Homo sapiens: one gene and its partners. The protein of the gene in region 2 interacts with the protein of the main gene of each other region in a pairwise test. Each region holds a gene or a part of one and is shown on either strand. Other genes may lie near its edges.

What was found.
Region 1: the proteins of SLC66A2 (region 2) and FBLN1 interact in binary tests that used the Homo sapiens proteins (3 or more experiments, as listed by UniProt).
Region 3: the proteins of SLC66A2 (region 2) and ZFYVE27 interact in binary tests that used the Homo sapiens proteins (3 or more experiments, as listed by UniProt).
Region 4: the proteins of SLC66A2 (region 2) and SLC35E3 interact in binary tests that used the Homo sapiens proteins (3 or more experiments, as listed by UniProt).

The regions. Positions count from the first base shown.
Region 1 is NC_000022.11:45,596,883-45,601,664, forward strand, and holds the end of FBLN1 (fibulin-1 isoform D precursor), read left to right. Parts: intron 1-3,424; coding exon 3,425-3,564; 3' UTR 3,565-4,253; downstream 4,254-4,782. UniProt on the Homo sapiens protein: Incorporated into fibronectin-containing matrix fibers. May play a role in cell adhesion and migration along protein fibers within the extracellular matrix (ECM).
Region 2 is NC_000018.10:79,948,645-79,956,618, forward strand, and holds the start of SLC66A2 (solute carrier family 66 member 2), read right to left. Parts: upstream 3,010-7,974; 5' UTR 2,937-3,009; intron 2,387-2,936; exon of another isoform or gene 2,382-2,386; 5' UTR 2,283-2,381; coding exon 2,080-2,282; intron 918-2,079; exon of another isoform or gene 875-917; intron 1-874.
Region 3 is NC_000010.11:97,740,099-97,747,127, reverse strand, and holds part of ZFYVE27 (protrudin), read right to left. Parts: intron 4,035-7,029; coding exon 3,964-4,034; intron 3,536-3,963; coding exon of another isoform or gene 3,497-3,535; intron 2,400-3,496; coding exon 2,213-2,399; intron 1-2,212. UniProt on the Homo sapiens protein: Key regulator of RAB11-dependent vesicular trafficking during neurite extension through polarized membrane transport. Promotes axonal elongation and contributes to the establishment of neuronal cell polarity.
Region 4 is NC_000012.12:68,749,166-68,756,194, forward strand, and holds part of SLC35E3 (solute carrier family 35 member E3), read left to right. Parts: intron 1-2,866; coding exon 2,867-3,025; intron 3,026-7,029. UniProt on the Homo sapiens protein: Putative transporter.

The DNA of each region.
Region 1 (4,782 bases), on a different chromosome or scaffold from region 2:
CAGTTATATAAATTTGACATACTTTATAACATATATTTTTAATATATTGTTTTATATGTATAATAGTTATATATCATATATGAAACTATATAATATACAGAAATATAATAATAACAGAAATAGATCTCTTTTTTTTTGGGACAGGATCTTGCTCTGTCACCCAGGCTAGAATGCAGTGGCACAATCTTGGCTCATTGCAACCTTGACCTTCCCGGGCTCAAACAATTCTGCCACCTCAGCCTCCTGAGTAGCTGGGACTATAAGCACACACCACCATGCCTGGCTAATTTTTGTATTTTTTGTAGAGACAGGGTTTTGCCACGTTGCCCACGCTGGTCTCGAACTCATGGGCTTGTGATCTGCCCGCCTAAGCCTCCCAAAGTGCTGGGATTACAAGCGTGAGCCACTGCACCCAGCTGAAACAAAGACATATCTGACTGTTGCTTGTGGAGGTGCCTGCCATTCCTCCCTACAGTGATTCACAGGCTCACCCAGCCTCTCCTTCTCCTTCAAGCCCCAAACCTCTGAATGCCAGGAAGGGTGGTAAGAAGTGTCTCTGCGCCTAGTACCAGTAAAGTTGGCAGGTCACTGTGGCTAGCGGGGGCACCATTGTTGGCCTCGGGCCTGGGGAGAGAAAAATATGACATACAGGGGGCCCACGGGGGTACGTTAGGTTCAGCCCTGTAAGCCCACACTGACCCTGGTGGGCAGACCCAGCCCAGGGAGGGGCAGGCAGGAGTGACCCCGTCATCAGGTTCTGCTGGCGAGCCCAGGGTGGTGACAGGCGCACGTCTTTTGCCGGGAGCTGAAGACGTTCATGGGCTTTCAAGCAGGACAAAGCTTCAATGTCATCACCAGGTAGCAGGCAGAGCAAGGGTGCTGACAGCCTGCAGAAGCCTGTGCTTATCTCTCCATCGGAGCTAAAGCCCATGTTTGCTTAGGGAACAGCCTGAAATTCCACCCCAGCTGCTGGGCCTTTCACTTTTGAAACATAAGCCCAGAGAGCGAAAGGGGGGAACGTTGTGCCCAGATTCTCTTTCTGAGCGTGAACTTGATGTTCCTGACCAGGAACCAGCCACTCGTACCGAAGGCCTTCCTGACCCCTCAGTTCTCCCCTGAGCCTTTGCTGTGTCCTGGGCACCAAGAGGTGGAGATAGGCTGTCACCGTGCACGTTTCCTAAGCCTGCAGAGGAACTGTTCACAGAATCCAGCCTGGAATCAGCCGTTTGTGGCAAACAGTCAGTAGCTATTTCTCAACTTGTGGTTGTGAAGCTGCAGGCTCCATATTCGCTCTTCACAGAGCATCCAAGCAGGTGTCTCAGTGCCAGCTCACACCGTTCACACTGCTCACACCAGCTCTGGAGAGCTGCTTGTACACATCTCTCCACAAGTCCACTTTCAGTGTTGCCACGTGGTACCGGAAATTTGCCATAGAAATTGGCCGATGGTACGACCAGAGAGCCACCTGTTAGATAGTTACCCCACATCCCCACCCTCAACACCACCTTAGACAAATCCTACTGTCAGAACATGTGGAACGGAGAAGGGACCTTGGCGGTTCATTCATAAATGTCAGCACCCATAGGTCTGTGCCTGTTTGGCCGCAGACACTGGGGAGCAGCCTGTAGCCTTGGCTTGTGCAGCTTCCTCTGCAGGAGGGGTGCCTCTTCCAAGAAACCTGTCCTGACTCCCCAGCCCTCCCCACCTCCATTCTCGCCCCCGCTGGACAATGCACACCCTCCATCAGAGCGTGGTGCATACCTTTCATCCTAGATCTCCCACCAGCTTTGAAACCAGCATCCTGTTCATGATGTCTGGAACCCTGGGAACTGTCCCAGCACCTGTTTAGCACATGTGTGCATGCGAAGGGGATCTGCTGAGTGCTCTGCTCTGGTGGGAAGGCCGCTCTGCACAGCTGGAGCTGATGCCTTGGCAGATGCTGGGCATCTGAATCGTGCAGTGCAGGAGCACAGGGGCATGGCACCGTTTGTTGCTGGGGAACCTAGGCCTCAAAAGGGCCTCAGCCTCTCCGCAGTGCAGTGAGGACTGTCCCATACTCTCACTGCGTACAGAGTATGGGAGAGTCTCTGTGAGGCTTTGGGTGCCCTGCAGAGGGAAGGCAGTGCCAGCTGGGCCTGGTCGGGGGCCATGGAGATGGCGGGCCCAGGCTGGGGAGGACTTGTGGCACCCACTCCCTTACCCGCTAACCCGGATCCCCTGGAATCTGCAGAATGCCTGGGGTTGCTCCTCTTCTACCCTGCCGTGGCTGAGCTTTGTCTGTGCCCTGTCCTCTGGCCACGGTCTTTGCCTGATCCCTACCCTGGTACAGGCAGAGCTCCCTGCAACCCCCAGCTGTTTCCCCAGAACTGACACCAGTCTCCCTGCACCACCCATCCTCCTTTTGACTGCCCTGGGGACGCCACTGCTGCTCTGATCCTCTGTCACTCCAGCCACCTCTTGCTTCCCTGTTATCACAAACACTGAACAGTGAGCTCAGGTGTCAGCCTCCACAGAGGCATGCACAGCAAGGGGTCCGGAGGCATGCCCCATGGAGAACTGGGGGTGCTCTGCTTGCAGGAGGATCCAGGGCCCATTGCAGTCCTCAGATGTTCTGGGGGAGAGGATACGCCTGCTTCATTTCTTCTCAGGGGTCAGAACTGGGCACAGGGGGTTGGAAGGAGGGAGAAAGATGTCTATCAGGTACCCACTGCATGCCAGGCCCTCTTCTAGGCTCCCTTAAAACCTTTCAGGTAGGCCAGTCACGGTCGCTCATGCCTGTAATCCCAGCACTTTGGGAGGCCAAAGCGGGTGGATCACCTGAGGTCAGGAGTTTGAGACTAGCCTGATCAACATGGAGAAACCCCGTCTCTACTAAAAATATAAAATGAGCCAGGCATGGTGGCACATGCCTGTAATCCCAGCTACTCGGGAGGCTGAGGCAGGAGAATGGCTTGAACCCGGGAGGTGGACGTTGCAATGAGCCGAGATCACGCCATTGCACTCCAGCCTGGGCAACAAGAGTGAAACTCCGTCGCAAAAACAAAAGACAAACAAAAAACACCTGTCAGGTAAATGGTGGTAGAGCAGAAAACCTGGGCTCAGAAGCTGGCATTGATCCCAGAGCCATCCAGTTTCAAAGCCCACACCCACAACTTTCCTCCAGGTTGGGCAGTGCATGATGGAAAGGCTGTCCCAGCAAGTAGTGAGTTCACTTTCACCAGTCCCTGGAGGCAGGAGCAGAGCCTGAGCTGACCACTTGGAAGGAGATGTTATTCAGGGGACTCGAGCATCTGGCGTAGGATGGGACTCCATGAGGTCTATGCCTCCTTCTAGCTCTGAAACTCCTCAAGGGAAACCATTTCCCAGATCTCTACGTTGCTGCAGTCCCTTCTAACTTCCAGCACACCTTCTGCTCTCTCCGCAGGTGTCGTGCGCCAGGTGCGGCCCATCGTGGGCCCATTTCATGCCGTCCTGAAGCTGGAGATGAACTATGTGGTCGGGGGCGTGGTCTCCCACCGAAATGTTGTCAACGTCCACATCTTCGTCTCTGAGTACTGGTTCTGAGGGCTGGTCTGCCGCACAGCCGCAGGTGCACCTCCAGGCCAAATCATTGCTGCCAGTGACTGTGGTCTGTACTTGTTTATACCCTCAGACTTTTTTAATGTTAGGTATTTGTAGCATTAGGCCAACATGTATTAAGCTGAGCCAGATGAATAAGTCCATCTGATGTATTTTCGGTGTTTAAAAAATGAGCCCAGTTGCTCAACTGTTTGGTTGAAAACCTTGCTCATTTTTTAATGCGAAGGCTAAGTGTCACCCCCTTTCTCTGCCTCTGGCTGGGCCTTGCTAAGGGCCAAGGAAAGAAAGACATTTTTTAGGGGGCAGCCAGTCCAAATGCCAAAAGAAGACCAGTTCTTGCCCTGATTGTATGAAATTTGACATTTTGGCACTTTTTTTTTTTTTTTGGCCAATCAGATTTTCTATGTTCTAAGGACATGGCTGCTGTAGAATAGCACAGACGTGGATGATAAATTATCCCCAGAAGCAGCATGACAGAATGCCTCGGGGAGCACTTGGAAGGGAAATTGCAGTTCTGTTGAAATAGAGGAAAATCCCTTGGTAAAGACACAGCCTGTTAGGCTCGTGTGGGCCTCCAGTATGTTCACCAGGGGAATGGCTGGGATTTCTCGGCACTCTGCATCATCCATCTTTTCTTATAGGTGGGAAAATAAACAACTTTGTGATCCTCCTGATGGCCTGTGCATGAGAGTCTTTCAAGAAGAGGGCTCTCTGCCAGCTCAGGAGTCTTCCGCCAGCTAAGGGACTGGAAATCTCCCCCCGCCGTCCCCCTGCCTCACCCCACCCAAGGTTGTCTCAGTGCTCCTCCTGCCCCTCAAGGTTCTGGGGCGGGGCCCAGCTTGTGTATTGGAAAAGCTTCCTACACACGTCGTTTTCAATGCCATGCCCACCCTCTGAGAAGTGTGGCTCGGGTTTGTTCCCTGCCCCATGTCCAGTGCTGCTAGGAAAGCCCAGGGCTCTGGCTTCTGTGTGACTTGCTTCCAATAGCATCCCTCGTGGCATCCTGATCCTCTCTAGAAATCCCTGGGGGCAAATAATGACCCTTCCGCAGCCATGAGTCCCTGCCAGACACAGGCCTGGGCCAGGCATTTGACATGAGGTGCTTCGCTCATTCCTCCTGGTGGCCCAGTGTGGTGGGTATGATCACACACAATCTTGAGATGGACAAACTGGGCTCAGAGAGAGGAACTTGGCTGCCAAAAT
Region 2 (7,974 bases):
TTATTTTCTTTTAGCAACTTTGAACTATGAGCATACTGGGGAGGGAAACCTCTAAGCGGAACTTCTTTCCCGTATGGTTATCCACTCTCAGGCAATTTTCCTCCATTATTTTGGAGAGAATTTATTCTATAACCCTGAAGACGAGTGCAGCGCTCCTTCACAACACACACGTGAGCTGGGGCTGTAGCAGGTGGCCTGCCGACCAGCGTCTCCCCAACCCCCACAACATGCACTCAAAGTAAACAACAGCATTAGACAATTAGAAACCTACTTCCAGTCAACCTTACGCTCACTGAGGCCACTGCAGCACCGCCAGCCACGTCTCCAAAGCAGGCGATGGGAAAGAAAGAAGGAGTCTCCAAAATGAGCACCCCTGAACCTCCCTCAGATGCAGCCTGGCCCAGAGACAAACCTCGAGACGGGACTCGGACCCAAAATCCTCCTCCGAGGTCGTTGCAGGGGACAAACCTCCCTGCCTCAGAGACAACTCTGGGGAAGAGGCAGCCAACCCACTCGCTCACCTAAAAATCCCTGGCAGGGGCAAAACTAACACCCAGGGACACATGGACCAATGGCTGCCCATGGCCAGGGCTGGGATGAAGGCCACGGAGCAGGGAGCACCCCGGCTCATGAACACGGGACACCTCAGCATCAGAACTCATCAAATGGACACGAAAGGGGTGTATTTCATGGAATGCAAATCACACCTCAATAAGGTTGACTTAAAAACTAACAGGCGGGCCAGGCGCGGTGGCTCACGCCTGTAATCCCAACACTTTGGGAGGTCAAGGTGGGTGGATCATGAGGTCAAGGGATCGAGACCATCCTGGTCAACATGGTGAAACCTGGTCTCTACTAAAAATACAAAAATTACCTGGGTATGGTGGCAGGCACCTGTAGTCCCAGCTACTCAGGAGGCTGAGGCAGGAGAATCACTTGAACCCAGGAGTCAGAGGCTGCAGTGAGCCGAGATTGTACCACTGCACTCCAGCCTGGCGACAGAGCAAGACTCTGTCTCAAAAAAAAACAAAACAAAACTAACAGGCAAAGAAGCAGGTACGTGATTACTCAGTGACCAGAGTCAGAAGCAGAGTTCTTGACACCAGCTGCCTGGACTCCTTCTCTCCACCCCTCCACCAGGCCCTCTTCATAGGAAGAGCAGCAGACACCTTCCAATCTGCCCGGACAGAGAGGCTGGGATCACCCAGAAGAAAGAAAAATTTCAGACGTTTTTGGCCTTAGAATGCAGCTGTGAGACCTCATTTCCTCTGAAAACTCACCCTCCCAATTATGTCTGCCTTCAACAACTGTTAAAATTAATTTCAATTTCCTTAGCCTAATACAAATACAAAGAGGAAGTTGGGGAGAGGAACAAGACAGTCTCCAGAGAGAGTGACTTCCTATTTAAATAAGGCAGGCCAGGCGCCGTGGCTCAGCTTGTAATCCCAGCCCTTTCAGAGGCCCAGTGGGGAGGGATGCTTGAGGCCAGGAGTTCGAGACCAGCCTGGGCAACAAAGTGAGACAACCCCCCACTCCCCTGTCTCTACAAAAAATACAAAAAAAACAATTAGCCGGGTGTGGTGGTGCGCCTGTGGTCCCAGCTACTCGGGAGGCTGAGATGGGAGGATCACCTGAGCCCAGGAACGTGGAGACTGCGGTGAGCTGTCATGTCATCATGCACTTCAGCCTGGACCACAGAGCAAGACCCTCTCTCAAAACAACAAAGAAAAACTATACAACATGAAAAAGGAGGGCAGGAACGGCTCCTCTCCACAGGCAGGCCTAGGCCAGTGCCCAGCTGAGAGGTCCCTGCTAAGTACCCATGTGGAACATCATGCAAGGAGGCGGATCTGGAGATTTTCTCTGAGATTCTGTGCTCCAACCCCACCGTTTTTCTGGAAAAATAATCTCACCCTAAGAAGTGACTTGCCTGCAGCCACGTACCCCATCCACGGCAGAGTGGGACGCTGGCCCAGCAGGGAGGTGTGGACCCTGCTGCTCCCCCGGCCTCAACCAGAAACCCCAAAGGAGAAACCCTCTTCTCCGGGTGCAGCCCAGGAAAGCAAGCCCCCAACTTACCAGAAGAGTATCCGCAAAATGTTGGCCACCAGCAGCACCAGGCACACGTAGGTGGAGAAGCCGTCGGCGTTCTGCGTCCTGCGAATGTCCCGATACTGCGGGACGTAGGGCACCACCCCTCCGAAGACCATGGCCGCGGCCGCGCCCCAGGACACCAGCTGGTGCAGTGGCACCAGGAGCCAGTCCAGGCCCTCGGCCTCCATCGCAGCGCCCGCCTGGCCGAGGCTGTCACGGGCTCCGCGCCCCGCGGGCCACCGGCCGCCTGCTCATCGCCGCTCCGCGCGCTCCTGCGGCCTCGGGGCCTGCGGGGAGCGGGGAGCTGCTCGAGTTCCGCCCAGGGAGGCTGGGGCGGCGCGCACGGACCCGACCCGACCCGCGCCAGCCGCAGGACCCGAGGCAGAGCGGGGGCGACCGGGGCCCGGGGCGCGCGAGGAGCGGCCCCTGCCTGGGACGGGGGGGTGTCTGGGGGTCCCGAGACGCTCCCGGAGGGGGCTGGGGAGGGGTCCCAGCGCCGGGGTCGAGGACGGGCGAAGCCCCTGGGGTCACCGCCCGGGTGCGCTTAGCCGGCGGGGGTCCACGCGCGCCCCGGGATGGGGTGGGGGAGGGGGCGCAGGGCCCAGGATCGGGGCGCACTGTTCGGGGGAGGGTCACAGGGCCTAGCATGGGGGCGCACGGCTCGGGGGAAGGGGGCGCAGGCCCAGGATGGGGGCGCACGGCTCGCGGGAGGAGGTGCCGGGCCGGGGACCCCACAGGACCAAGCCAGGGGACTGAAGGCCGCGACCAACTGCCCCGGCCCTGCGTCCTCGGCCGCCCTAGGCCGCCCCCCGAGGACCCCGCGCCGCCCCCGCGCTCCTTACCTGCGCCCCCAGCCCCGCGCCCAGCGCCCCGCGTCCCCGCGCCGCTGACCCGCGCGCGTCTCGGCGTCAGTCCGCTCAGGCGCCGGGAAACCCCGCCCCGTGACGTCACAATGCCGGGCCCCGCCCACGCCGGAGCTGCGCGGAGGCGCCGCGGTGTCCTAGAGCGCGCTGGGCAGGGCGGGCGCAGGCGGGGCCGGGAGCCGGGGCTGTCGGGGCGGTGGGGGCGCGTGGCTCCTCCCGCCCGGTCGGGAAATACCAGCCGGGCGGGGCCGGTCCCTCAGGCCTGGCGCCCACGTTAACCCGTCTCCAGCTGTCCCGGCGCGCGGCCATCCAAGCGGAGGGCGTCGTCCTGGAGGGCCGGGGGCGCGGGGTCCGGACGCCCCTCTCACGCGTGTCCTGAATGCGGGCCACCCGGGGACGAGTCTCGTCCAGCTCTGTCCTGACCCAGGAGACCCGGGGACCCGGCTCGGAGTTTGCAGCGCCCAGAGGCGGCCGGGGTCTCGGGAAACGGAGCGCCCCCCGCGGGTCTCCGCTCCGATGCAAGTGCCCCACGAGCAGATGCGCCGGGGCCGTCGCCGGGGGGCCGGCTGGACGCGCGGCCGTCACCGTGGCCATTGTCATTATCGTGGTTGCGGCCACGGTCGCTGTCGCTGCAGAAACGCGGGGCGGCCTCTCCCCATCCCCGTGTAGTTCTCCGGGCTGAACCGTTGGGCGCCTATTTGCAGAAAAGGCAGCTCCTGAGCCTCAAGACAGACTCGGGGGCCAGGCGTGCGTGAAGCCCGGGCCCTGCTGCCGGCCTCGCGTGCCAAGCCAACTCCGAGCCCCACACCCGCCCGCGGGGAGCTGCCCTCGCCCGGGACCCTCTTGGCCCGCGCGGGTGAGGACTGAGGGCGAGGGGCGCGTGGATGAGGGGCGCGCGGGTGAAGAGTGAGGGGAGCGCGGGTGAAGTGTGAGGGGAGCGCGGGTGAGGGGTGAGGGGCGCGCGGGTGAGGGGTGAGGGGAGCGCGGGTGAGGGGTGAGGGGTGAGGGGAGCGTGGGTGAGGGGTGAGGGGTGAGTGATGCGCGAGTGAAGGGTGAGGGGCGCCTGGGTGAGGGGTGAGGGGTGAGGGGCGCGCCGGTGAAGGGTGAGGGGAGCGTGGGTGAGGGGTGAAGGGTGCGCGAGTGATGGGCGGGTGTGTGTAGGGTGAGGGACGCGTGGGTGAGGGGCGCGGGGGTGTGAGGCGAGGGGTGCACGGGTAAGGGGCGAGCCGCGAGGTTGAGGGGTCCACGCTGAGGGTTGCTTCCCCGCCAGCCGCGGCCTCTTCTCCACGATCCCGGCCCCCTGCCCCCTGCCCCCTGCCCGACTGGTTTTATGGGGGATCATAAGGACAGTCACCACCTAACTAGGAGCAAATCCCCAACAATCGAGGAAACAGGGCGCTCCTGCCTTGCGCCCCCAGGCTGGCGTTGGAACTTCTTTAGAGCCAGCGCTGCGGAGCCCCAGCACCAGGAACGTAGAGGTGAGTAAAAGGCACAGCAGGAAGCCTGGGAGAGAAAAAGCAGCTGCCCCTGCTCAGCCGCGCCCTAGCCTGAGCCCAGCAGCCTTTGGGATCATCTGTCCTCTCTGCCCTGGAGGTTGGAGTAAGCTCCGGACCTCCTTGACCCTCACGGGAGCACTGGGGTCCCAGACGCTATCCTCGGTTATCTTAAATCCAGAGGCTGTGGAGGCATGGGGCAAATTGTGCCCGCAGCCTGGGGCCTAGAGCTGCATCTGTGCACGGGGCCTCCAGGAGCCCGGCTCAGTGGACGAAATCTGGCATGCTCGGACGTCACCCCACAGGCCTCACGCCTCAGAGGCACCCCGAAAGGTGAGTTGATGACTGCAGAGTGAGTTTGTACCTTTTCGAACACCACCTGCCGGGGGTCCGAGCCCCCACCCCCAGTCTACATCAGCCAATCACAGCTCATTGCAGGTGCTGCGCTTGTCACATAGCTTCCTGCAAACAAGAGAAGCCGACCAAGCCATGCACAGCTGGAAAATGGCCCTTATAAAGCCATCAAGTCCTAATCCAGGCAACCTGTAAATATTACCTCGTATGGGAAAACAATTTTTTTTTCTAATGTCATTAAGGATCTTGAGATAGAGAGATTGTCCTGGATTATCCAGGTGGGCCCTAAACACTGTGGCTCACGCCTATAATCCCAGCACTTTGGGAGCCTGAGGCAGGTAAATCTCTTGAGCCCAGGAGTTCGAGACCAGCCTGAGCAACATGGTGAGACCTCGTCTCTACAAAAGATAGAAAAATTATCTGGGCATGGTAGTGTGCACCTGTAGTCCCAGCTACTCCTGAGGTGGAAGGATTGCTTGAGGCCAGGAGGTTGAGGCAGCAGTGAGCCAGGATCGCACCACTGCACTCTAGCCTCGGTGACAAAGTGAGACCCTATCTCAAAAATAAATACATACAACAGAGACAGGGTCTCTGTGTTGGCCAGGCTGGTCTTGAACTCCTGGCCTCAAGCGATCCTCCTGCCTTGGCCTCTCAAAGTGCTGGGATGACAGGCATGAGCCAGCGTGCCCGGCCACATGCATCTTTGTAAGAGGGAGGCAGAAGGAAATTTGGTGCCACACAGAAGAGAGGGCCATGGGAAGATGGAGCAGAGATGAAGATGGGGCCTTGAAAATTGACGTGATGCAGTCCCAAGCCAAGTAACGCCGGAGCCACCAGAGGCCCCAGAAACAAGGAGCAGATTCTCCCCAGGAGCCATGCGAGGGAGCCTGGCCCTGCCAATGCCTTGATTTCAGCACATTAAAAGTGATTTTGGACTTTTGGCCTCCAGAGCTGTGAAGGAATAAACTTCTGCTGTTGTAAAAGCCACTTAGCTGTGGTCATTTGTTGCAGGAGCCAATGAGTGACTGACAAGATCAGAGCTGTGACACAGAGGAAGCAGAGCTGTGCCTCATGCTTTCCAGGCTCTGCTCATGAGAAACAGGTCACTGGGTTGGCCCGGTGCAGATTAAGGTGTCACGTAGGAGCATGAATACCTCAGGGAACCACTTAAGAATTTGCCTAACACATGGTGCTTATAAAAGGAAAAGCAAACAAAGCAACCTTGTTCTGAGAGCTGGGACATCAGAGGAAGATTGGAGCCACTGTTTCTCACTCAGCCTATTTCTTTTTATTTTATTTATTTATTTTATAGAGACGGGGAGCTCACTATGTTGGCCAGTTTGGTCTTTGAACTCCTGGCTTCAAAGGATCCTCTCACCTAGGCCTCCCAAAGTGCTGGGATTACAGGAGTGAGCCACCTTGCTGGTCGCGCACCCCATTTTTTAAGGAAACCTGTACGGAAGGTGGATTGGAAGTCTCACTTTAGGAGCCTGGCTCAGAAGTTCCGCAACTTCAACTGGTGTCATGTGACGTGCTTGGCAGTCACCACCCCCATCCTTACAGCAAAGAATAGCAGGGCAGCCTTTCATGGGCCCATCAGAGAACTAAGGCTGCCAGACAAACTGGCACCCTGCTCTGAAGAGACAGGCACATCCAGGGAGAGACAGCACCTGAGAGCTGCTCACCCAGAGCAGAAACTCCTGGATAAACTGGCTTTAGCAGAAAAATTAGACAACATGCAAGACCAGATAGGTGATATCAGCAGAAAGATGGAAACAATAATAAAAAAAAAATGCTAGAAGTCAAAAACACAATAGAAATAAAGAATGCTCATTAGTTGACTAGACAGAATGAAGGAAAGAATCAGTGAATATGAAGATAAGTCAACAGAAACTTCCCAAACTGAAATTCAAGGAGAAAAGGTGATGAAAAAAAAAAAAATCAACTGATCTAGTTTGAGTGTGTGTCCCCACCAAATCTCATGTTGAGTTATAATCACCAGTTTTGGAGGTGGGGCTTGGCAGGGGGTGTTTGGATCATGGGGGCGGGTTCCTCATGAATGGCTTGCACCATCGCTTCATCCCCTTGTGATGAGTAAGCTCTCACTCTGAGTTCATGTGAGATCTGTTTTTGTTTTTGTTTTTGTTTTGAGACGGAGTCTCGTTCTGTTGCCCAGACTGGAGTGCAGTGGCACAGCACAGTCTCAGCTTACTGCAACCTCCTGGGTTTAAGTGATTCTTGTGCCTCAGTCTCCCGAGTAGCTGGGATTACAGGCTTGTGCCACTATGCCTGGCTAATTTATTGTATTTTTAGTAGAGATGGGGTTTCACCATGTTGACCAGGCTGGTCTCAAACTCCTGACCTCTTGATCCACCCACCTCGGCCTCCCAAAGTGCTGCGATTATAGGCATGAGCCACCGCGCCCGCCTGAGATCTGTTTTTCTTTAAAGTGTCTGGCACCTACCCACACCCTCACTCTCTCTCTCTCTTGCTCCTGCTTTTACCGTGTGAAATGCCTGCTCCCACTTTGCCTTCCGCCATGAGTAAAAGTTCCCTGAGGCCCCCAAGAAGCTGAGCAGATGCTGGTGCCATGCTGGTATGGCCTGCAAGAACTGTGAGCCAATTAAATCTCTTCTCTTTATAAATTACTCTGTCTCAGGTATTTCTTTATAGCAATGCAAGAACAGCCTAATACACCAACAGAAAACACCATCCAAGAACAACATCAAAGGATATGATTGGTACAATGGGAGAATCGGAAGGAGGAAAGAGGAGAAGGGGCAGGAGAAATGGTGGAATGGCAAGAATGTCCCCAAATTAATGACAGACACCAAACCATAGATCCAGGAAACATACAGAACATCCATCAGGACAAATAACAAAAAACATAAAGCAAAACAAAACAAAAAACCACACCTAGGCTTGTCACATTCAAACTGAATAAACCTGCCTGACTGAACCCTCGTCCACCAGCCACAGCTACACCTCTGACAAGACAAGAGACAGATTTCAGTAACTCTCCTGGTAAGAGACCACTGACCATGGCTGGTCCCGGCTGGTTTACAAACTCTGTGCACCAAGTGCCTTTGAGTCTTAGAAAGACCTTTTGATGTATAGGGCCTAACTGTAATACATGTAAATGTTACATCTCTACCCCAAAGTGAACATGG
Region 3 (7,029 bases), on a different chromosome or scaffold from region 2:
TGTCAAGGTCACAAGAAACAAGGACTGAGGAACTGCTCCAGATTAAAGAAGACTAAAGAGACATAAAAAAATTAAACATGATGTATAATCCTGAATTGGATCCCAGATCAGGGAAACTGATACAAAGAACTTTATTAGGACACCCACACTGGCTCACACCTGTAGTCCCAGCACTTTGGGAGGCTGAAGCAGGAGGATTGCTAGAGCCCAGGAATTCAAGGCCAGCCTGGGCAAGACAATGAGACCCTATCTCTACAAAAAAATTGTTTTAATTAGCAGGGTATGGTGCATGTGCCTGTGGTCCCAGCTACTCAGGAGGCTGAGGCAGAAGGATCACTTGAGTCCAGGAGGTTGAGGCTGCAGTGAGCCATGATCATGCCACTGCATTCCAGCCTGGATGACAGAGCAAAACTCCGTCTCAAAAAGTAAAAAAAAAAAAAGAAAAAAGGAAAAAAATTAATAAAAGAAGAAAAAGAACTTTATTAATACAACTGGTAAAATCCGATTACGAATTATACATTAGTTATCAACGTTAAGTTTCCTAATTTTGATTACAGCTCTGTGGATATTTAAGAGAATGTCCTTGTTCTTAGGAAATACACGCTGAAGTATTAAGTCACGTTTGCAACTTACTTTCAAATGGTTTAGGAAAAAGAAAAGAATATGTATATGTAGAGAGATAGACGAAGCCAACATGGCAAAATGTTAATAATTGTTCTATCTGGGTAAAAGGCATTCTTGGTATTATTCCTGTACTTCTTTAAGTTTAAAACTATTTCAGGCTGGGTGCGGTGGCTCATGCCTGCAATCCCAGCACTTTGGGAGGCCAAGGCAGGCAGATCACCTGAGGCTGAAGTTCGAGACCAGCCTGGCCAACATGATGAAACCTCATCTCTACTAAAAATACAAAAATTAGCTGGACATGGTGGCACATGCCTGTAATCCCAGCTACTCTGGAGGCTGAGGCACGAGAATCGCCTGAACACAGGAGGCAGAGGTTGCAGTGAGCCGAGATCACGCCACTGCATTTCAGCCTGGGTTACATAACAAGACTCTGTCTCAAAAAAAAAAAAAAATATATATATATATATATATATATGTGTATATATATATAAAACTATTTCAAAGTAAGAAAGTCTTTTTTAAAAAAACTACATATCCAGGCCCCACTCCAGATAACTGACTCGGAATTTCTGGGGTGAGGCCCAGCCATCTGTTTGTTTATAACTTTTCTTGCCCCTATTCTATTTCAAGAGAATGCAGAGACCCCACTCCAGGGAAGGGAGGTGTAAACGTCCACTGCTACTGAAGTTGTTAGATGAATATTTTTCAAGTCTTAAAATGCTTCCTCAGAAGTACCAGCTCTGTCATGTTTACGAAGTTTCTCCACAGTGTAGTGATGATAACTAATATCTACTCAACACTTCCCCAGTACAAGACACCTGTTCAATCTTCACAACCACCTTCTGAGTAAGCCCTGTTATCATTCCATTTAACAGATGAGAAACTTGAGACACACAGAGGCTAAGCAACTTGCCCAATGTTACACAGCAAGTAAATGGAAGAGCTGGGATTTGAACCCAGGCAGTGGCTTATACATGCACATGCTTAGTCAAGACCCTAAACTGTCTCTCCAGCAGAAAGAACAGGGCCAGGCGTGGTGGCTCACGCCTGTAATTCCAGCATTTTGGGAGGCCGAGGCGGGCGGATCACAAGGTCAAGAGATCGAGACCATCGTGACAAACATGGTGAAACCCGGTCTCTACTAAAAATACAAAAAATTAGCTGGGCGTGGTGGTGTGTGCCTGTAGTCCCAGCTACTTGGGAGGCTGAGGCAGGAGAATCGCTTGAAACCAATGGAAGGCGGAGGTTGCAGTGAGCCGAGATTGCGTCACTGCACTCCAGCCTGGACAACGAGAGCGAAACTCTGTCTCAAAAAAAAAAAGAAAGAAAGAACAGAAGCTGTGAAAACAAACAGCTAGATCGAGATTCTCATCCCAGCTTGGCCACTTTCTAGCTAAGTAAGTCAGCCTTTTTCTTTACCCATAAATGGAAGATGTTAATATTAACTACCTCCCGGAACTGTTAAAAAGGTTAAATGAAGTAACAGCTGTGGTTTGCCTAATATGATGTCGAGCACACAAAGCTAGCACTTAGTGTCATGGCTGCTGTTACTGTTCCCCCACCTCCCTGGCCTCTCTTCCATACTCACAAGCTCTTCACCTCAGCCACGGCCTCGGGACGAGACAGGCGACCTCTCTGCAGGTCCTCCTGCCTCACGCTATGATACTTCCTCCGCATCAGCTCGGAATCAGGCAGCCGTGCCCGGCAAACCTCCTGAAGGTAGCCCAGCAGGGCGGGCACTGAAATCATCAGGGCACCTACTGAGTACCATGCACCTGCAGAATCAAAAACACTGCAGGTAACACAGGTAAGCAAAGACCAGGAGTCGGCCCACCCAGACGCCCACTGCTTGTTCCTCACCTCCTCCAGGGCTCTGCCAGTCAGGCCTTCCCTGATAGCTCTGTACGACACAGTGTCTCACCCCTACTCTCCAGCCCCCTTAACCCAGCTTCATTCCTCATAGACCTTATCACCACATGACACATTGCAGGCATGTCTGTTGTCTCCTCTAATGAAGTAAGCTCTTGAGGGCTGGGACTTTGTCCCTTTGGTCACTGCTGTGGCCCCATCCTCACTTTTAATACGTTTTAAGATGCTGCTAGCACAGAGGAGGCTCACGCTGGAGTGTGACTGCCAGGAGCTCCTGATGCCTGACACTCGGACCTCTGGGCCACTAAGGAAGCTAGAAGCCTTTCGTTCAGCTTTTAGGACACTGCAGACGATTGTGCCTTGAGAAATGGCGAAGCCGAGATAAAATTCAAAGAAAGAACTTCTTCCATGTAACATGGCACCCCAACAACAAGCTAACAGAGCAGCGGGCCCATAATAAATGCTTACTAAACATCTGTCATAGGAACTGACTTACTTTGGGAGCATATATAGAAAAATCAAACATCCTAGGAAGTTTTGAACAGGTAAAGATGAGTCCAACTAAGAAACAGAAAATGAGATCTTATATGAACTGGATTTATTTTCAACCTACTCAATCCCTATCTCCAGAGGAAACAAAGAAGACACCTGAGAAATACAAGGTAAGTAAAAGAACAAAAACATGAATAATGGCCCAGCTCCTCCAAACATTCTGTCCCAGACTCTTTATTCTCACCCTGAGGGGTTTGGCTTTTTATGTGGCCATCTGCCAGCGCCAACCACGGATAGGGTAGGGTCACGGTATGCACTGTAGTAAGAGGTTCATAGAAGACATTACCCATGACCCCAACAGACACCCATGTGTCCACACTTCTATCTCAAAGGCTTCATGCCACTCCTCACTGCTGGTGACTGCCCAGCAGCTCCCGTTAGGCTCACTAGCTGAACCAGAGAAAAGCAACAGATATGGCAAAAATCCCTTATCAGCTCCTCATCCCAGTACCTTTACTCATGCCATGTCCCCAGATGACCCTTGAATCAGCTTAAAAACCAAAATGGAAAAAGGTCAATGCATCCTCAGCAGGAAGTCAAGAAGGAAACAACGATAATACTGAGAGCAGCTACAATGCACTGGCTGCCTCTTCCACGCCAGGCACTGTGCTAAGTATTATGCCTAGACTGCCGCATTCCTCACAAATACTCTAGGAGGAAAGCGTCATTTTTATCCTCCCTCTAGAGGTAAGGAAAATTAGGCCTTAACAGGGAAGTTCAATAATCTGCCCAAGGTCACAGCAGGCAGCTCAGCCTGGATCGTCCCTCTGGAGGCTGTTTCTGACTCCAAGCAGACACAGAGGAACACTAACTCCAGGGCAACAAGAGCAGCTCCCACACATAGGGTGGGGCTGCATCCAGGTGTTCTTCCCCCACATTCGTTCACAAAAACCACTGGCCCCTGAAGGCAGTTCTTACCCTCATTCAAAGTGAGGAACAAGACGTTGAGGCCCAGGCAGGTCAGCAAGGAACACAAAGGCATCTGCCACCTACAATACAGAGAGTCCTGATCACTACAGAGAGTCACTCCTCCAGCTGGGGAGGGGAGACCAGGCAGCACAGACGGGACATCAAACCAGAAGAGGAGGCCTGGAACACAGAAGGTCAAGGAGAAACGAAAAGGGGGCCTCTCACTTGGACTGGTGACCAGGAGAGGCGGTAAGATGTCACACATTAGCACCTGGGGTGAGGAAACTGGTAGGTCTGTAGTGCTTTCTCCCAAAAGGAAGAAGAATTTATAAAATATCAGTTAAGAAACCCAGTTAATACCATTTAACCTGTGTTTTGTAAGGTTGTATTCTCCTTAAGAGGTGACACTGACAAATGTTCTTAATATTTTCCTCTATTCTTTTTTTATAATTTCATAAGAATATATAATCATTGCACAAGATTCAACTAATACAGAAATCAAGAAAAAACAAATTGTGGACTTCTTTGGCCCCATTTGTGCCTTTATCTTCTTATGTCCATGTTTTTGAAAATTTGAGAGTTTATCTGAGAGTTTATTTTGAATACCTATTAATTCAAAAAGAGAAACAATAGTAAAGATTTTATTTTAATATATTAAAAATCAAGATGAAAGTAGGGTGCAGCATTCACTTAGCAATCACACCTTAAGTGAGCTGGAACAGACAGAAGCAAACACAGATACATCACTGCCACCACCACCACCACCACCAAATGGCAATGCAGAAGCCCCCAAACAGGGAACAAGGAAGACCAGAGACTCAGATTGCTGAGAACAAGCAAATGCTGCTGGCTCCGTCCCTGATAAAGGACATTTAGTAGGGAAAGAGGAGCACAGATGCAACAATGAAGCCACGACACCCAAATTCTAAAGGCAGTGTCAATATATAGGTGAGCCACTAGGAGAGAGACAAACATCAGAAAAATAAACAGGTAAATTGCTGGCAAGCATTGAATGTATTTTCTTTTTTTTTTTTTTTTTCTTTTGAGACAGAGTCTCGCTCTGTTGCCCAGACTAGAGTGCAGTGGCACAATCTTGGTTCACTACAACCCCCGCCTCCTGGGTTCAAGCGATTCTGTCTCAGCCTCCCTAGCAGCTGGGATTACAGGGGCACGCCACCACACCTGGCCAGTTTTTGTGTTTTCAGTAGGGATGGGGTGTTTCACTATGTTGGCCAGGCTGGTCTCAAACTCCTGACCTCAGGTGATCTGCCCACCCTGGCCTCCCAAAGTGCTGGGATTAAAGGCGTAAGCTACCGTGCTGGGGCTAAATATATTTTCTTGTGCTCTGGAGTATTTCAGAGTTACTGAATGAGGTTAACTAATTCATGCAGGGCTTTTACTTTTTTTTATTATTATACTTAAAGTTCTGGGATACATGTGCAGAACGTGCAGGTTTGTTACGTAGGTATACACGTGCCATGGTGGTTTGCTGCACCCATCAACCCATCATCTACCTCAGGTATTTCTCCTAATGCTATTCTTCCTCTAGCCCCCACCCCTCAATAGGCCATGGTGTGTGATGTTCCCCTCCCTGTGTCCATGTGTTCTCACTGTTCAACTCCCACTTATGAGTGAGAACATGTGGTGTTTGGTTTTCTGTTCCTGTGTTAGTTTGCCGAGAATGATGGTTTCCAGCTTCATCCATGTCCCTGCAAAGGACATGAACTTATCCTTTTTCATGGCTGCACATAGTATTCCATGGTGTATATGTGCCACGTTTTCTTTATCCAGTCTATCATTGATGGACATTTAGGTTGGTTCCAAGTCTTTGCTATTGTGAATAGTGCTGCAACAAACATACATGTGCATGTGTCTTTACAGCAGAATGATTTATAATCTTTTGGATATATACCCAGTAATGGGATTGCTGGGTAAAATGGTATTTCTGCTTCCAGATCCTTGAGGAATCGCCACATTGTCTTCCACAATGGTTGAACTAATGTACACTGCCACCAACAGTGTAAAGGGGCTTTTACTTTTTAATGAAATTTATGAGTAAGGGAATGAAATGACATCTGTGTCTTTCTCCTGAAATTCAACACACTCCACCTGTACCACCCTAATTACGCCTCAGAACCTCTAGTGGCAGCTACCAGGGTAAAAGCGAAATAAAAGCCAATCCCATTTTGGAAATAAAAACACCACCACTCAAGTCACTTTCATTTTAAAGCCTCTTCCCTTCTATAAAATGTCTTTACTGACACTTTGGTCCCAGGAGACCCAAGCAGTAGAGTAGCTGATCCCAGGAGAGAGTCTGTTAACAATTTACTGCAGCTCTAGGCTTCAGACCTAATAGCCAGAGCCCAAGATTAGGTCCCTCTTCAAAGTCAAATCCTCTTTACTAAGAAAAGAACAATCAAAAGCACAAACTAACGTGACAGCCACTTTCATGGACCAGTGCTCCCTCTCCCAGCAGCACAGAAACTGCAGGCTCCTGGGGGCTTTTAAGTCCAATGCTCCTCCTGCATCCTGCTTTAACCAATCCTACCACATCCTCCAATTTTTAATTCCATAAAATGGAAAAACCCTAACACATTAGTGTGCTAAGACGCACTACGGACTAGTAGAGGAAAAGGAGACGGGCAGGACAGGATACACTTAACTTTCGTACTTTGCCACAAAGAGCAACACACACATACAAAGAATGTGCCGGGGGCACAGCCTCTCTCCTAAAGAAGACCAAACTTCACATCATGCTGAGATTATAAAAGGAGAAAACAGCCTCTCCTCATACTGTCTCCCTACCCCTTGTGGGAAGAGCACAGTGATCTTACAGTAGAGAACACAGCTCTGGAACACTGACTAGCTCACCTCTACGGATACAGACATAAATTAGGTGAACAAGAAAAATGTAGGGCCTTTGCCAGAGAACTAGTAACAAAACATCCACTATTTCCAGACTGAGGCATGGATAAATACTCAATGGCATCCTCAGAGGTTAACGTAACTCCACTCACCCTGCTTCCTACCAGTCTCTCTCATGTATTTCAGAGGACTGAGGGTCTTTATGAGAAT
Region 4 (7,029 bases), on a different chromosome or scaffold from region 2:
GTCTCAAAATTGCTATAGATTAGAATCAAAGGATTCTATATCCCTAAGGTAGATATTTGACATGAGATTGACCAAGGAATGATTGTAGATTAATGGACAGTTTCTTATCAGTAAGTGGTAAAGGTACCATTACAAAATAGGTATATTCCCAAAACATTCCTCTTAAAGAAAGTTGTATCTGCCCACAGTATCTTGGGATAATTTCTATGTTGTTTCTCTTATACTGCTGGAGACATTAAAAGGAGTTAAAAGACAAGTGACCAGCTATTAGCTTGAGTTGTAGAAAGATGGTTGACTCATTCATTCGTTCAGCAGACATCTTTTCTGCATTATGTTCACCCTTGAGGATACAAAGATGAAAAGCAGCTACAGTCCAGCAGTGTAGAAACACAAAGAGACAGCTGGTCACAGTAGCATATGTACCCCAAGGTAGGAGGAAAATTCTGAGGAACACCAAGGAGGAAGTGGCAGCTCTTAAAGAGGGGCGGTGAGGTAAGACTTTACGGAAAAGTTAACAATTTAAATTGAAGGGCACACAGAAATGAGCTCAGCAGGGAAGGACAGCTGGTCTTTTCCTTGCAGTGTGTGTGAAAGTCTGGAGCATTTTTGGAGAACTTGATTTGTTTGGTGAGGCTAGGCAGTAGGTGCATTGTGAGAAGACAAGGCTGAGGAGTGGGTGATACCAGATGTCAGGGTCGTGAAGCCATGCTAAGGAAGTATATCTTTATTGAGCACGCACCAGGAGAGGAGTTCAGACAGGGACTGACTTGATCATTCCCCTGTCTTTAGAAAAGTAACTGATGGCAATGAAGGGTGGGTAAGAGGGAAGGAAGGGTAAAAGGCAGAGCAGTCAGGAACCTACCTGTACTTCACAGGACAGGCAGGAAGGGCCTGGGCTAGGGCGGTGGGAATGGACAGGGAAAGGTTAAAAGGCACTCCAGGGGCGTTTTGGGGAACATAGGAGAACCTGACTGAATGTGAGAGAGAGGAAAGTAAGGCTCTGATCCCTGAGGGAGATTATATCATCAATTATTGGAAACACACAAGAGGAGCCCATTTGTAGAAAAAAGGCACCAGTTGATTTTAAACAAGTTCCTGCAGATTATATAAGTAGAGATGGCCAGGAGACTGGCCAATATAAGGTTAAGGATGCTCAAGCGATGAGGGAAGAGCAGTAGATCTCAGCAAATAGTAAAAGACATCAGTCAGGGCGATGAAAGAGGAAGGCAGGCATCTGCCTTAAAAACTGTTAAGTGCAGGAGGCAGTGAGGGAGGAGTACAAACCAGAGGGTAGTTCTTCCAAGCAAAACTTGCAGGTTCTGCAAAGAGGGCTCGCAGGAAGGGCCACAGGGAGTCTGGACATGTCCATGGAGATCATAGTGCCCTTAGGAGAGCATTAGAGGGGTGGTGGCAGGAGCCAGGCTGTGCTGCATTGAGGGACAGTGGAGGCCTGAGAGCCCCTGCTGTTCCAGGCAGTCCTGTGGCGAAGACACGCGGCTGCCTGAAGAGGCTGCAAAAGGAAAGGCAGGTGAGCACACACCCTCTGTATCCGTTTTTGCTTGCTGCTGTGCCCCAAGGAGCAGGCAGCAGAAGAATCAGTTCTTTGTCCTTCATATTCACAGAGGACTCTTAGTTAAAGCTGGCAGGAGTATGGTTCAAATTCCCTGCTCTTCTATTTTTGTCTTGATGGATTTCTATAGACTTAGAGTTTATGTAACAAGATACCCAGACCTACAGGAACAAGAAGTATGTAGAAGTCATTCAAAAGCCTAGCTGTTCTTGCCAGATCTGATCCAAACAGTCCTGTTAAATCTTCTTCAAAGCCTTTTTTTCAGTTATATTTGTGAAGTATTTTGTGGACGAATGGGATTTGAGGTCTTGAGATGTTGTTTCTACTGAATGGTATGGTATTTTAGGGTTAGTGATTATCCAGTGTATCTAGGTGTATTGGTGGGGGATGAGGAATAGTATCCACAGAAAAGTCATCCAGAGAGAGGAAAATCTCTTCTACCATTGATTGGGTTTTCCAAAGCAACTGACGAGACCACATACCTTTTCAAGCCACACACATTGGCAACCATCTCTAACCTGCCCCCATGCCCCATTGTCATCGTGTCCCCCCAACCTCTGTCTTTGTTTTTTTTTTTTTTTAGACAGAGTCTCACTCTATCACTGAGGCTGGAGTGCAGTGGCGCGATCTCAGCTCACTGCAACCTCCGCCTCCTTGGTTCAAGCGATTCTCCTGCTCAGCGTCCCGAGTAGCTGGGACCACAGGCGCCCGCCACCACGCCCAGCTAATTGTATTTTTAGTAGAGATAGGGTTTCACCATGTTGGCCAGGCTGGTCTCGGACTCCTGACCTCAGGTTATCTGCCTGCCTTGGCCTCCCAAAGTACTGGGATTACAGGTGTCAGCCACTGCTCCTGGCCCCGGTCTTCCATTTTTTAAATTTTGCCATTTTTAGAAAGAAATGAAGTCCAACACTGCATCTGTATTCCTAATCACCTGAATTTCTATTTCTCCCTTATTTTCCCAAGATCTTTTATCCTTGTAGGCCCTTATATGCATTTATTTTTCCCTATTTACTAGGATCAGGTAGAAGGAAATAGAGGACTTTTCTCCTCCTTCTAAGAATTGAGAAGAAGCTAGATTATCAGAAATTAAATTTATAGAGCTATTTTCATCCATGGTGCTTAAAGGGCATTCATATAGCTTACTGGTCTTTGAAATCTTGTAGAATAATTAGACATTTTATCTTCCCCTAGTCTATACCCCACATTCCCATCTTTGTGACTCTAGTTGTCGCATCTTTGATTATGTGATACTATTTCTTTTGTGCCAGACATGTTTTATCTCCTAATTTTCAGTGGGTAGGAGCCAAACAGCATGAATTACAAGTGAACTCAATGCAGCTGCTGTACTACCAGGCTCCGATGTCATCTGCCATGTTGCTGGTTGCTGTGCCCTTCTTTGAGCCAGTGTTTGGAGAAGGAGGAATATTTGGTCCCTGGTCAGTTTCTGCTTTGGTAAGTTCTAATTGTTTTGATATCTAAGAAACAGTATAATAATAACTCCTCCATTATTAATGTAATTTTTAGTTTTCAGAGCACTATGTCCGATCCATTCTCACATTTATCGTCATAATCACCATAAAAGGAGGTAAGGTAAGGATTCTTTTTCAGATGAAGAAATTGAGGTACACAAAGGTGAAGGGACTTGCCTAGAGTGAGGCAGCTACTCAGTGGCAAAAGCAGAACTACAATTAATGTCTTCCGATGCCTGGTTACTGTTCTGACCATGTCAAGCTAGAGCCCACAAATAATTTGGACATTTAGATTAAGTTAAATTTTTTTACAATGAAAACATAGCTTTATAATCACTATTTCGATTTTGAACATACGTAAAAATATAAAGAAAGTGAAGGGGCCAGGCACAGTGGCTCACTCCTGTAATCCCAGCACTTTGGGAGGATGAGCTGGGCAGATCGTTTGAGCCCAGGAGTTTTAGACCAGCCTGGGCAACATAGGAAGACCTCATCTCTACAAAAAATTAAGAAATGGGCAGGGTGTGGTGGCTCATGCCTGTAATCCTGGGAATTTGGGAGGCTGAGGCGGGTGGATCACTTGTCAGGAGTTCAAGACCAGCCTGGCCAACATGGCGAAACCCATTCTCTACTAAAAATACAAAAAAATTAGCTGAGGCTGGGTGCGGTGGCTCATGCCTGTAATCCCAGCACTTTGGGAGACCAAGGCAGGCAAATCACCTGAGGTCAGGAGTTCAAGACCAGCCTGGCCAACATGGCAAAACCCCGTCTCTACTAAAAATACAAAAATAAGCCAGGCGTGGTGGCACACACCTATAATCCCAGCTACTCAAGGAGGCTGAGGCACAAAAATCACTTGAACCCGTGAGGTGGAGGTGCAGTGAGCTGGGATCACACCTGTCTCAAAAAAAAAAAAAAAAAGAATTAGCTAAGTGTGATGGCATGCTTCCTGTAATCCCAGCTACTCAGGAAGCTGAGGCATGAGATTTGCTTGAACCTGGGAGGTGGAGGTTGCAATGAGCCAAGATTGTGCCACTGCACTCCAGCCTGGGCCACAGAGCAAGACTCTGTCTCAGAAAAAAAATAAATAAATAAAAAAGCCAGGCATGGTGGCACATGCCTGCAGTCCCAGCTACTTGGGAGGCTGGGGTGGGAGGATCACTTGAGCCCAGGAGGTCGAGGCTGCAGTGAGCCAAGATAGCACCACTGCATTTCAGCCTGGGCAACAGAGTGAGACCCTGTCTCAAAAAAAAAAACCAAACCAAAACAACAACAACAAAAGAAAGTGAAGGGCCTCTGGAACCCTATCACACTAAGGTAATTACCTTTACCATTTTGGTGAGGATCATTTCATGGATCTCTTTTGTATAAACACATAGGTACACATGCATGTGTGTATAATTTTAGATATGGAATGATATCATAGATGCTGTTTTTATTGCAGATTCCTTTTCCCCAGCCTTCCTAGCCACACACTCTTCCACATTCCATTACCCCCTAATCTTCCACATTCCATTACCCCCTAATCCGTGCCCCTTGAAGTCATGTTAACTTTCTAAGTGCTTGTTCTTCCATATTTTTCTCCATGCCGTATATATCCATACACACACACACACACACACACACACCCCAATTAAACATCTATTTCTTTTCTTTTTTTTGAGATGGAGTCTCACTCTGTCGCCCAGGCTGGAGTGCAGTGGTGCAATTCTTGGCTCACTGCAAACTCCGCCTCCCGGGTTCAAGCGGTTCTCCTGCCTCAGACCCTAGCTGGGACTATAGGCGCACACCACCACGCCCAGCTAATTTTTGTATTTTCAGTAGAGATGGGGTTTCACCATCTTGGCCAGGATGGTCTCAATCTCTTGACCTCGTGACCCACCCGCCTCGGCCTCCCAAAGTGCTGGGATTACAGTCATGAGCCACCGTGTCCGGCCACATCTGTTTCTTTGACAAAAGTGGAATCCTATTACATATGCTTTTCTGTATCTTGCTTTTCTGACTTAATAATATCTCCTAAAAATCTCTCCAAAGCATTCTTTCCAGGGTCTATTTTGTTGTTGTTGTTGTTTTTGTTTTGTTTTGTTTTGTTTTGAGTCAGAGTCTCACTCTGTCACCCAGGCTATAGTGCAGTGGCGTGATCTCTGTTCACTGCAACCTCCACCTCCTGGGTTCAAGTGATTCTTGTGCCTCAGCCTCCCGAGTAGCTGGAATTAGAGGTGTGCGCCACCATGCCTGGCTAATTTTTTTGTATTTTTGATAGAGACAGGGTTTCACCATGTTGGCCAGGCTGGTCTTGACCTCCTGACCTCAAGTGATCCACCCACCTCGGCCTCCCAAAGTGCTGGGATTACAGGCGTGAGCCGCCGCGCCCAGCCGGTGTCTGTGTAATAGCCCCTCTGCATATTCACTTTTTTCCCAGTTCTTTACCACTATGAACAATATTGTGATAAACATCCTTGTACATCATGTGTTCTCATGTACTGATAACTTTTTTCCTATGGAAATGAGTCCCAGGAGTGGAATTGGCAAATCAAGGGCATATGTATTTTGGGGACTTTTATTTTTTAGAGACAGTGTCTGGCTATGTTGCCCAGGCTGGCCTCAAGCTCCTGAGCTCAAGTGATCCCCCCAACCTCAGCCTCCCAAGCAGCTAGGACTAATGCGTTGGGGACATTTTAAGTTAGAATGTATAATCCTCCTATGTCTTAGTCAGTTCAGGCTGCTATAACAAAACTACAATGGACTGGGTGGCTTAAACAACAAATACTCATTTCTCACAGTTCTGAAGTCTGGAAGTCTGAGAACAGGCTGCCAGTATGGTTGGGTTCTTGGTGAAGGCTCTTTTCCTGCTTTATAGATGGCAGTCTTCTTGCCATATCCTCATCTGACAACAAGGAAGAGGAGAAGCAAGCTCTCTTGTATCTCTTCTTATCATAGGGACTAATCCCATTCATGAAGGCTCTGCCCTTATGCCATAGTCACCTCCCAAAGGCCCCACCTCCCAATACCATCACCTTGCGGGTGAGGATTTCAACATAGGAATTTTGGGGGGACACAAACATTCAGTCCATAATACCTTACTTATCAGGAATTCCTGCTTCCCACAAGAGTTCCCACAACTCTTGGAACACAGTCAGTGGGAATATCTTTTTTGTTGGTCGCATCAATTTATCAAGCACCTATATAGCCCTTAGTCTGTTCCCAGCACTATTCAAAGCACTATGTAAATATTAACTTATTTAATCTTCATAACTTTATTAGGTTGATGCTATACTAATACTATTTGTATTAGTCCATTTTATGATGTTATAAAAGCATACCTGAGACTAATTTATAAAGAAAAGAGGTTTATTTTGGCTTATGGTTCTGCAGACAGTACAAGAAGCATTAGTGCTGGCATCTACTTCTAGTGAGGGCCTCAGGAAGCTTACAGTCATGGTGGAAGGTGAAGGGGGAGCAGGCATGTCACATGGCGAGAGAGGGAGCAAGAGAGAGAGGGGAGGAAATGCCAGTCTCTTTTAAACAGCTAGCTCTCATGAGAACTAATAGAGCAAGAACTCACTCATTACCCTGGGGAGGGCACCAAGCCATTCATGAGGGATCCAGCCCCATAACCCAAACACCTTCTACTAGGCCTCACTTCCAACATTGGTGATCAAATTTCAACATGAGATTTGGAGGGAACAAACATCCAAACTATATTACCATTGTTATTATTTTTACTGATGAGGAAACCGAGAGATAAAGAGTTAGTAACTGGCTCGCAATCCCACAGCTAATAAGCAGAAACACAATTTGGATACATGCCTTCTGGGTCCAAAGTCTGTGTTCTCCAGTGCTCCGCTCTGCTTCCCCTAAGTAGACCAGTAGTTATTTCAAATTTATATATTTTACCATATACACTTTTTTTCTAAAGTAGAGGTCATTGGACCATCTATCAGATAATATTTCCACTTTGCAAAAGTCCTAGCCATCCTGGTTATC